Linked DNA regions of Homo sapiens. The protein of the gene in region 2 interacts with the protein of the main gene of each other region in a biochemical or structural test. Each region holds a gene or a part of one and is shown on either strand. Other genes may lie near its edges.

The links. The genes of interacting proteins can lie anywhere in the genome.
Region 1: the proteins of TSR2 (region 2) and RPS26 form a complex in vitro, tested with the Homo sapiens proteins (one study listed by BioGRID).

What each region holds. Positions count from the first base shown.
Region 1 is NC_000012.12:56,037,996-56,044,917, reverse strand, and holds RPS26 (small ribosomal subunit protein eS26), read right to left. Parts: upstream 3,001-6,922; 5' UTR 2,752-3,000; coding exon 2,749-2,751; intron 2,494-2,748; coding exon 2,316-2,493; intron 1,556-2,315; coding exon 1,425-1,555; intron 800-1,424; coding exon 764-799; 3' UTR 221-763; downstream 1-220.
Region 2 is NC_000023.11:54,443,404-54,448,561, reverse strand, and holds the end of TSR2 (pre-rRNA-processing protein TSR2 homolog), read right to left. Parts: coding exon 5,071-5,158; intron 4,555-5,070; coding exon 4,378-4,554; intron 4,147-4,377; coding exon 4,012-4,146; 3' UTR 2,454-4,011; coding exon of another isoform or gene 2,148-2,453; 3' UTR 1,252-2,147; coding exon of another isoform or gene 1,108-1,251; 3' UTR 530-1,107; downstream 1-529. Other genes in the region: FGD1 (FYVE, RhoGEF and PH domain-containing protein 1), read left to right, coding at 1,108-1,251, 2,148-2,453. UniProt on the Homo sapiens protein: May be involved in 20S pre-rRNA processing.

The DNA of each region.
Region 1 (6,922 bases), on a different chromosome or scaffold from region 2:
TCCTTTTATGCTCTGAAGCTATCCAAGTCATACATCCACTATTCAAGTTCCCCCTCCAGGGGTATAAACACCTCAGTTTAGGTCACTTCCCAATGTGCTCCTCACTCAACTAATAGCTTTTCCTCATTCTCCTAATGTTTACCCATTTTTAGGATGCCAACTTAAACTTGATGTGGTTAAATCCAAAATTCAGATGCCTAATCTCCATTTCACACAGCTATGCGAATTGTGAGGCCAACCATACGACCACAATTAAAGTTTAATTTACATAAATAGCTAGGCGAGGTGGCTCAAGCCTGTAATCCCAGCACTTTGGGAGGCCAAGGCTGGTGGATTAACTGAGGTCAGAAGTTCAAGACCAGCCTGGACAACATAGTGAAACCCCATCTCTACCAAAAATACAAAAATTAACCAGGCATGGTGGCAGACACCTGTAATCCCAGCTACTCAAGAAGCTGAGGCAGGAGAATCACTTGAACCCGGGAGACGGAGGTTGCAGTGAGCTGAGATCACGCCACTGCAATTCAGCTTGGGCGACAAAGACTCCGTCTCAAAAAAAAAAAAAAAAAAAAGAAAAAAATTAAATTACATGAATAAGCTTTCTTCCCCATGAAAATAATGTGTGTCACTTCACACTTGGTCTAACACACAAAATCCCCACCTTATCTGGCACAGATACACTTAACATGCAATATTAAGTACAATTTCCATTTTATTTTTCTCCAGAGAATAGCCTGTCTTCAGTCTTTAAGAACTCAGCTCCTTACATGGGCTTTGGTGGGGGACGTGGGGCAGCACCCTGAAAGACAAAGAAACAAAAGAGTAAATTAAAACCCATGGATCCAAGACTCCCTTCCCCCAAAGAACTTGACCACCATCCTCTCACAAACTGATGTATTCAGGCTACAAATGCATGGGAAGCTGATAGAGGTGGAGGGAGAACACTACTCTGCATCCTAAAAACCAATTCTGATTCTAACACTGCTTTGCAGTGTCTCTAAGCATGTTCAGGTGTGGGTCTCACCTGCCTTACAGCTTAACCTGAGGCACAGACCTTAATTTGATACCCCCTGCACCACAGGAGGAAGCAACTTTTTTTTTTTTTTAAGAGACAAGGTCTCACTTTTGCCCTGGCTGGAGCGCAAGTGGTATAATCATAGCTCACTGCAACCTCAAACTCCTGGGCTCAAGTGATCCTCCTGCCTCAGCCTCTCGAGCAGCCAGACTATAGGTTCACACTATCATGCTTGGCTTCCTTCTCAATATTTTTTGAAGAGATGGGGTCTTGAACTGCTGGTTTCTAGCAATCTTCTTGTCCCAGCCTCCCAAAGTGTTGAGGTTACAGGTATAGGACACCCTGACCCTCCAGGATGAAATTTTAACCATCACTCCCCTGGCTTCCATTCTCCTTTTAAAATACTCACCGCAGGTCTAAATCGGGGTGGGGGTGTTCGGTCCTTGCGGGCTTCACGAGATCGATTCCTGACTACTTTGCTGTGAATTGCACAACTCACACAGTAATGTAGCTTCACATACAGCTTGGGAAGCACATAGGCTAAGGAATAGAAAATAGAGTTATACTGGTATTATATACCTACCTTGCTTTTTTGTTACATGAATGAAGAGCACCTTACATGTTTACGTCAATTAAAACTAAACCTATTTAAATGCCTGTCGGGCACATAAAAGCACCCCCAAAGCACCTGTTCAGCCCAATACCTGAGCACATATGTATAACCCTCAGTTTTACAAGTGAATTAACATCCCACGTGAGTTCATCTTGACACCGCAAGGACCAGACTGACATTCTAAATGCAATAAACCAATAATCCAGTTCCTTCTACACCTACACCCGCCCTAATGCCTACCCTGAACCTTGCTCTTTCTATAAAAGGAAAAAAACAAAGCGACGTTCTTATTGCTCCAAACATCATCCTTGCACACCAAACTAGACGGCCTCCATTCTCGAAACGTTGAAGACATTCTTCCTCACCTGTATATTTTCACAAATATTCAAATAATCAATAGCACAAGAATTGTCAAATTTACCAAGTTTCTAGTTTTTGCAATCTCATAACCGAAACAGGCAAACCTTTACCTCAGAGTAAAGGCTGTGCACTCTATCACAAAGTCACCCTCTGCCCAGAAAAGAATCAAAACGGCAAACAAGAGAATTCTCTTCTACCAGTAACAACCTTAAATACGTGGAAATTGCCTGAGAGGCTCCAAAGAACAGAGCCTCCAAAAGGGCGAAGTTGGGCGAAGGCTTTAAGATACTGGGATCCTCACACAGTTCGCGCCGGTGACCCACTTACCATCGAAGACGCTCGCTTCAGAAATGTCCCTGACTGCTGCGGCCTCCACTATGTTTCGAATGACGAATTTCTTAATGGCCTTGTCCTTGGGCACGCATCGGGCACAGTTAGTGCAGCGAATAGGCTGCACGTGGCCGCGGCCCTTTTTGGCACGACCATTGTTCCTTCTTTTCTTTGTCTGCGACAGGATGGGAAAACTGTTAGGAAAACGGCGCAACTCACCCAGCCTCAGTCCCTTTCCGGCCACAAGCCGCACCGGCAGCCTCCAGGAAGGCGCCGCTCGGATCTCCTGTTTCTCCGCAAATCCCGCCGACCCCCAGAGCAAATGAAATGTACACTCGGTCCACCCCTCAGCCGTGCTCCAGGCTCTCACTTCCCCACAATCCCAGAGTCTGCACCCGAACCCCCACCCTCACCACGCAAGAAGACTCACCATCTTGGAGGCACGGACCGGAGAGAGGAGACGGTGCCTGGCAGGGCCCTCCTATATAGCATGAGATCCCTACGCGGACACCGGGAGAATCCTTAGGAGACGGGCTTCAAGAACGGCAACTCACTTTACTCAAATATTCCTTTACATTCAGCATTTCTGCTGAAATCTAGGGTGGAAATGCGTTCCTAGTGTTTATTTATCCATGGAACAAAGTGCACATGGGACTATTTAGCCGGATGGCGGAAGAAAATCGAGGTTATGTGTCTCCCAGCAAGCCTTGCGCCGCGCCGACTCGGAAGCAATTCTGGACGATGCAGTTTTCCGGTATACGCGACGCTAGGCGTGAAAGTTGCCAGACGCTGGACCACAAGGCGCACTCGTTATTAGAGGCCAGAGAGGGACAGATGCTTGGTGGGAATTGTAGTGCGAAGCCAAGAGGCTCCCCCCTCCCCCCCTTCCCCCCTGCCCCAAGTGCTTAGACCGAAGGCGGCGCTGCGCCACCGGGGGACGCCCTGGGCTCATTTCTCTGACAGTCCTTCTACTAGGTAGGTGTAGGATTACGAAGAGGAAGGCCTGAGAGGAAACAAGCATTTTGTGAATCCCTCCTTCCAATATGGAGAAAATCCCACAATGAAGTGCATTGAGGCTGGGGCTATTTCTCATTCATCTTTTTATCTCTGGCACAGTGCCTGGCCCTGTGGTAAGCGTCTTTATAAATATTAACTCATTTAACTTTGAGCAAGCCTATAGGTAGCTACTATTATTATCCTCACTTTAAAGATTGAAGAATTTAGCCCGGCCTGGTGGTGGGCGCCTGTAATCCCAGGTACTCAGGAGGCTAAGACAGGAGAATCTTGAACCTGGGAGGCGGAGTTTCCAGTGAGCCGAGATCGCGCCACTGCACTCTAGCCTGGGTAAAAAGATCGAAACTCTGTCTCAAAAATAAATAAATCAATTAAAAAAAAAGATTGAAGAACTGACGTGCAGTAGGTATTCTGGCTCCGCTGTACTATGCTGTATGTCACCTAACAAATGGATGGAGGAATAGCCTGGACTAATGACTTAAACGTTTTTCACCCAGATTCATAGCACGAATACATTTTACATTGGTACCCAGTACACACACAAACACGATTACATGCACATGCAAAACTGAAACACAAGCTTTATGAAACGATACTTACCCTTGTCATAGGTGTGCTGGTATGTTCTATTCTTTATTTTTACTTAATCTTTCTGTTCTCTATTTTAATAAATGCTGATCAAAAACCACGAAAATTATTTCACCACTCATTAGTGAATCTGACCCCTAATTGAAAGATTATGTGTAAGCTCCATTTACCTCTGAAGAGCCATCGGAAAGACTTAAGCCTTAGGCTGGGTGCAGTGGCTCACGCCTGTAATCCCAACACTTTGGGAGGCCAAGGCAGGCGGATCACCTGAGGTCAGGAGTTCAAGACCAGCCTAGTCAACATAGTGACACCCCACCTCTACTAAAAATATAAAAATTAGGCCTGGTGGCGCACACCTGTAATCCCAGCTACTCGGGAGACTGAGACAGGAGAATTGCTTGCACCCGGGAGGCAGAAGTTGCAGTGAGCTGAGATTGGGCTACTGTGCTACAGTCTGGGCAATAGAGCGAAACTCTGTCTCAAAAAAAAAAAAAAAAAAAGCAAGCAAGCTTCAGCCTGGCAGGAATGGCTGTCCACAGCCAACCACCCAGTTGTCTCCAAAGTTGAAGACACTAGGGTGGCAAGGGGACCTCCTAGCATTCAGACCCAGGATGGTACAGATGGAAACCATTGTTCATTTATGACTCACTCTAGAGTTTGAACACACCAGATTCACCTTCCCTCCAGCAACCCATCATGGTTTCTTTTAACCTTTAACCCACTTCTTGGGGCTAAAATCTGTTTTCTTACTTTCTTTTTTCTTTTCCTTTCTTTTTTTATTTTTATTTTTGAGACAGACTCTTGCTCTGTCACCCAGGCTGGAGTGCAGTGGTGCCATCTCAGCTCACAGCAACCTCTGCCTCCCGGGTTCAAGCGATTCTTCTGCCTCAGCCTCCCGAGTAGGTGGGACTACAGGTGGGCGCCACCATGCCCAGCTAATTTTTGTATTTTTAGTAGAGACAGGGTTTCACCATGTTGGCTGGGACAGTCCCGATCTCTTGACCTCGTGATCCATCCACCTCAGCCTCCCAAAGTGCTGGGATTATAGGTGTGAGCCACTGCACCCGGCCCCAGCTAATTTTTGTATTTTTAGTAGAGATAGGGTTTCGCCATGTTGCCCAGGCTGGTCTCGAACTCCTGAGCTCAGGATATCCACCCGACTCGGCCTCCCAAAGTGCTAGGATTACAGGCGTGAGCCACTGTGCCCAGACTTTTTTTTTTTTTTTTCAGATGGAGTCTTGCTCTGTTGCCTAGGCTGGAGTGCAGTGGTGCGATCTTGGCTCACTGCAACCTCCGCCTCCTGGGTTCAAGCGATTCTTCTGCCTCAGCCTCCCAAGTAGCTGGCACTACAGGCACGTACCACCATGCCCGGCTAATTTTTTGTATTTTAGTAGAGACGGAGTTTCACCATGTTGGCCACATGGTCTTGATCTCCTGACCTCGTGATCCGCCTGCCTCAGCCTCCCAGAGTGCCAGGATTACAGGCATGAGCCACTGTGCCCAGCGCTTTTTTTTCTTTTTTAAGATGGGTCTGGAGGCTGCAGTGGCATGATCACAGTTCAGTGCAGGCTTGACCTCCTGGGCTCAAGTGATCCTGCCGTCTCAGCTTTCCGAGTAGCTGGGACTACAGGCATGCACCACCATGCCTAGCTAATTTTAAAATTTCTTGTAGAGATGGTGTTGCCCTGTGTTGCTGAGGCTGTTCTCAAACTCCTAGGCTCAAGTGATCCTCCCAAGTAGCTGGGAGGACAGGTGTCCTCCACCACTTCCAGCTTTCCTGTCTGTTTTGACTTTGAATTTGCCAGTTTCAGTGGGACATGGAAAATAATAGACTCTAGATAGGAGTGTCTCTAATTTTCACTTCACTGTAATCTTGTGGAAAACAGAAGGCAGACATTACTATATGGAATAGCAATGAGGTAGATGGAAGAGAACATAAAAAAGTTCAGAGTGAAGAGAACAGAAAATAGTTACTATTTAAGACAGAAACAAATTTATGTTCCTACTTTGGATTTTTCTAGCTTAGGGGTTTCACTGGCTGCATTCCCTGGCATAAAGCGATGAGCACATGCTTTGGATCACACACCCCTGGGTTCAAATTCTGGTTCTGTCACTTACTGGCTGATGAGCCTTGGATAAGGTATTTATTCTCTCTTGGGCTTTTATTTTTTTACCAATAATTGTGATCATCCTTTTGTAGGTGTTTCTACAATTCAATGAGTACTTAGCATTTATGAGATGCTCAAGCAGTGGTAGACCCTATGATTGTCATCATTCGCATTATTTCACCCTGGGCATAGAATGTGTTTTGTGCACAGTAGGTACTCAACAAATGTTTGATTAATTTCTACTTTGGGTAGACAGGCAAGTCAGACTTTCTCTCCTATCCTGAAGGCACTCCTTCCTGGTAGGAAAATCTCCTCCATTTCCCAGTCTAGGCTGAAAATTCTTCGTTTTTGTTTACCTCCTAAACTGTTCAGTAGTTGGTATAACATACTGCAAGGAGGACCCCTCCCTCTTAGTAGAAAAGCAAGGCAAAGGAAGTCTGCAAAAACAACCAGAGGTGTTAAATTACTCATGTTTATTTATAACAGACTTTCAGCCAGTACAGTACAAAACTTACAGTAGTATATCTCCGTTACACAAATATTTACTTACAATATATTACATATACAAAATGCTTTGCAATAAGTCTCAAAAGCTAGTTTAACTCCCCTTGAGAAAGGAGAAAAACTCTTTAAAAAAGGGGGGGAGGGGAATCAGAAGAAGAGAGGAGGAGGTGAAGGGGTAAAGGTCAAAAGAGACACCAAACATAGGCTACAAAGGAAACCCTAGGAGAGAGGGAGAAGAGAGGTGGTATTGCACTTGCTTCTGTGTTTATTTTTTCTTTTTGTTCTTCATAACTTCTGATTAAAAATATATATATATATGTATATATATATATTATGTACACAAGGAAAGAAGCTGCCAGAAGTATTACAAAATCCTATCTGCAGCTTGGA
Region 2 (5,158 bases):
AGGCCCAGAGGGGTCATTTGCCCAAATTACACAGCAAATGAGTGGCAGCACTGGATTTTTTTAAAATTAAAAAATTGGCTGGGCACAGTGGCTCATGCCTGTAATCCCAGCACTTTGGGAGGCTGAGGCGGGTGAATCACCGGAGGTCGGGAGTTCAGGACCAGCCTGACCAATGTGGAGAAACCCCATCTCTACTAAAAACACAAAATTAGCCAGGCATGGTGGCGCACGCCTGCAATCCCAGCTACTTGGGAGGGCTGAGGCAGGCAAATCGCTTGAACCTGGGAAGCAGAGGTTGCGGTGAGCCAAGATCGCGCCATTGTACTCCAGCCTGGGCAACAACAGCAAAACTCCGTCTCAAAAAAAAAAAAAAAATTTAAAAATTGTCTTTTGTTATTACAAAGTAGGATAAGTAGACCAATATAAACAAAAAATAATAAAATACCGTATCCCTTCTACCCAAAAGTTACCATTGTGAGGGCTTATCCTATCTTTCTAGGCATATATGCACAAACACACATTTTGGAGATTTTTTTAAAAACAAATCTAGGTATTTATTTAACACTTAAAAGAGTACTTACTCTGTGCCAGGAACTATTCTAAGCACTTTGCATATATTAATTCATTTAATTCTCACATCAGCTCTCTTTGCTCTCCAAGTCAATACATTTTCATCTAGAGCTGGGATTCTAAGCCAGACTTCATTAACCACCCACATACCCCCTTAAAACCACAATGCTAGATTACCTCTCAATGAGTGTAGGAAATGGATGTGATGAAAGACAGAAAAAAGCATGAGGCCTAAATGTGTGAATGGCTTGAGGAATGAATGCTCTGACTGAAGAAAGAATGCCTGAGATCCGCACACTCCTTCCACTGGCCTGTAGAGGCAGCAGCCGTTGCCCAAATGAGGCAGACGAACCTAGCTTTGAATCTCAGCTCTAGCTGATTCACTGGGTGGCACTGGACAAATCACTCCTGCCACCTGAGCTTGAGCGTCTTCATCTGAGATAGGAATAGCAGTCCCTACACTGAGGAGGTATTAAAGCTAGGAGGAGCCAGGCTAGGCCTTCTGTCAACATTGATGCCCGGTGTCTCTGGCCACAGAAACAGGCCTCAGTGGCTGCAGAGAACAGCGTCATCTGCAGCTTCCTGCACTACATGGAGAAGGGTGGCAAAGGATGGCACAAGGCATGGTTCGTGGTCCCTGAAAATGAACCCTTGGTGCTGTATATCTACGGAGCCCCTCAGGTATGCATCCTACTCCTTCGGGTCCTTTCAGCCACCTGGCAAAGCCAGATCCAGTCCTTGACCTCTCCTTGGCCTTGGAAGATAAGGTGAGCCTTGGAAGATAAGGTGAGCCTATCTCTAAGAGGAAATCAGAACCCCAACCCTTGAGAGACAAAGACTGGCTAGAGACAAGGAGTGGTTGTGGTATGTAGGGAAAACCAGGATGAGTTGTGGGCCTGGCTTCCTGGAAGGAGTAGAGATGGGGAACTGCTAGGTCCAATTTGGAGTGGGTAAGAGTATGCAGATGGGACCGAGCGCAGTGGCTCACGCCTGTAATCCCAGCACTCTGAGAGGCCGAGGCAGGTGGCTCACCTGAGATCAGGAGTTCAAGACCAGCCTGGCCAACATGGTGAAACCCCGTCTCTACTAAAAATACAAAAATTAGCCTGGCGTGGTGACGTGTGCCTGTAGTCCCAGCTACTCAGGAAGCTGAGGCAGGAGAATTGCTTGAACCTGGGAGGTAGAGGTTGCAGTGAGCCAAGTTCATGCCACTGCACTCCAGCCTGGGCAACAGGGCAAGACTCTGTCTCAAAAAAAAAAAAAAAAAAAAGTATGCAGATAGGGGCAATAGCATAGACAAAGGCCTGAAAACATTATTTGGTATGCTAAAGAGACTAGCCCAGCAGTTTTGTGAGAAGAGGCGGGGGTGGGGGGAGACAGGTATTTAAACCAGCCTGCATTTTAGCCCCAGTTCTGACATGTTCCTGTTGATAACACTGGAGCCACGGAAGGTTCCTGAGTAGGGGAGTTCCTGAGTAGGGGACTGAAGACAGAGCATATGCAAAACCAGTTAGAAGCTGGGGCGGGGGAAAGGTCTAGCCCCAAGGTGGCCCCAGCTCTGTCCCTCCTCCCGCCAGGATGTGAAAGCCCAGCGCAGCCTGCCCCTCATTGGCTTCGAGGTGGGACCGCCCGAGGCAGGGGAGCGGCCTGACAGAAGGCATGTCTTCAAGATCACCCAGAGCCACCTCAGCTGGTACTTCAGCCCTGAGACAGAGGAACTACAGCGACGCTGGATGGCTGTGCTTGGCCGGGCGGGCCGAGGGGACACGTTCTGCCCGGGGCCCACACTGTCTGAGGACAGGGAGATGGAGGAGGCACCGGTGGCTGCTTTAGGAGCCACTGCTGAACCCCCCGAATCCCCCCAGACCCGAGACAAGACCTAGAGGGTTTGGGACAAACTGGGAGCCCCCACCCCACACTCTAGTTGCCCATGTCTGATTGGGGGCTCTAGCCCCTTCCCTCCCAGCTCAGTCAATACTTGAACTCCCATCACGGGCACTTTCAATCCCGAATGCTGGGTCTTGGGTTTTTTAATTCATCTTTTCACAAAACGTGGGCTTTTAAAAAATATATTCCTACAGTGATGTCAATTTTTATTAATCCCTGTCCCCAGGGAGGGTGGGAGCCGTTGCCAGTCCTACCTGAATTAGGTCGTTTTTCTCCCTCATCCCTCAATACCCTACCACAGATCCTGCCTCCACCCAGTTCCCCACAAAGCACCAGAGGTAGGAGACCTGGATTCAAGTGCCAGCTCTGCCACTGACCCTGGGGCCCCGACCCAGCCCTGCCTCCTCAGCCAGTGTCTTCACACGTACAACTCCACGTGGGGTGGCAACTAGACCTCTCCTGCCTCTCCCATGGCTTACAGCTTCTACCCGGCCCCAAGGCTACCCAGTATTTTATCGTCCAGACCCATGGCAGGGCCAGCGGGCAGGACAGGGAAACAGGGGGGAGGACAATGGATACTCAGTTTTTTGTGTTTTTTTGTGTGTTTTTTTTTTTTTAAGAAAAATACAGTTTATTTCAGGCTTACAGTAACTTTCATAGCACTGCTGTGCTCCGTTCGTTCATCTGTTTGGTTGTCCAAAGTACCAGGCTGCTAGGGTGGGCCCAGAAACTGCTCCCTTGTAAACTCTGAAGCTGAGCTCCCAGAAGGCTGATTCTAAGGCTACTACTCACAGGTCAAGCCACAGATTAAGCAGTAAGGTATTATTTATTAAGATCTTAAGCCTCACCCCTGAACTCAAATGGGATGGGATAAGGAGTAAGGAAAGAGGTTAGAGGAGACAGAAAACAAAGCCCAGCTCTTCCAAGCTCACCACCTAGCCAAGGTCTTCGAATTCCTGAGGGAACCCAGGACTGGAGGCTGGGCTGAAGGAAGGCAGCATTCCTGGGAGGTTCCAAGTTCTGGGCAGGGGTACAGAGCTGTTGCGTGTGTGTGGGGTGGGGTAAGGGAGAGGCTCCAGAGCTACTTTCATTCACATTTTCAACTATTCTCTCTTCCACTTGCATGTTCATCTCACCATTCCTGACCCAGCCAGCCCCCTATCACTGAGTACTGCTGCTGCTGCTGATCCTCTCCTCCCCAAATCCACCTGCCCACTGTCCACCGGCATCTAGCTCCTCCTCCAGCCACACCCACACTCACTCATCCCCTTCCTCACAATGACCGCACCCAAAAGACACTGTACTGGGGAACCCGGCTTCGTCACTCGGATGTTAACTAAAGGCCCAGGGGAATATGCTGGAAAAGGTCCCCCCACCCCCAAGACCAAGGACCCTAGGTTTTCCTTGCCCTGGAGGGAGCCAGACAGAGGAACAGGGGAGAGGGTGGAGATGGGGTAACCAGTCCACAGGTCTGCAATCCTCAAAAAAAAAACCCCTACAGACAACTCTTAGAACAGCAAATAAGGGCCCAAAGCCATTTCCAATCATCCCCACTCATTTTTTTCTCCGGACAATGGTCCAGCCATCTTCCACTATATCCTCTTCCTTAATAGTCTGAGCGTCTGGATCAGAGGGTTCAGGCTGGGGGCAGACCCCATCTGTAGCAGCCCCATCATTCGTAGCTGTGACCTGGAGGGGAGATTTAAAAGAGAGCTGAATACACTGACCACTGGAGACCCAGGCTCTGCTCCAGCTTTTCCAGGATTGGCTGTGTAACTTTAGGAAAGTTCCCTGCCCTCTCTGGATAATACTACTACCACCAACCACCACCATCCCCTTATCACTTCCCTGTGAATCTAGCTGCTCTTCCAGAAAATTGAAAACATCTGTATCCCCCAACCCAGGGGGCACCCACTTCACCTCCATCTCTTCCACACTGTCCACATCATCTTCATCCTCATCAGTCTCTCTAGCTGTCTTAAGTGCAGTGGCTGTGACCTTGCATTTTCTCTGAGTGATGCAGGAGGCCATCTCCCTCAGAGCAGCCCCATCACCCCTCTGGAAGTGGTGGAACATGGTCTGCAGTTGCTGGCTCACCTACCAAGAAAATATTCAACCAGTTTGGATTTTCCAGATATCTACTATACAAACAGCACGTGTTTGAAGCAACAGTGGGGAGTAGGTTGGATTTTTCCAGAAGAGAACAGAGCTCTTTCCTCCCCAAGGAATTAACCAATGAAGCAACCACATATGAAGGGCTCAAATGAAGGCCTAAAGCATCAAAAGAGAGCCTAACTAGCAGGGAATCCTCTAGAACTGGGCTTTGAAAGAAATAAGATGTAAAAGGGAAGGTAATCTTATTGGGGAGCAATGGTAACCAGAGCGGGGGTGAAAATGGACCTGGACTGGCCTGACCTGCCCTTGGGATGGGGCTGAGGAACAGGCCTGGATGGGAATGATGTATAGAAATAAAGAAAAGGCAGGGTTTGGAAAGGCTACACTTTTTCCTCTAGGCAACAGAGTCATAGTCAAGAGTCTTGGCCCAAAACAGACAGCTGGGGAGAAGAAAGACTACAGGTAGGGAGACTGCAGTTGTGCCCGTGATAAGCTCACCTGGGGCAGACTCCCGTCTTCCACAACTGTATCAAACTCGTTGGTCAACAGCTCTCCAAGGAAGTCTTCCACCTCATCTAGCTCCAAG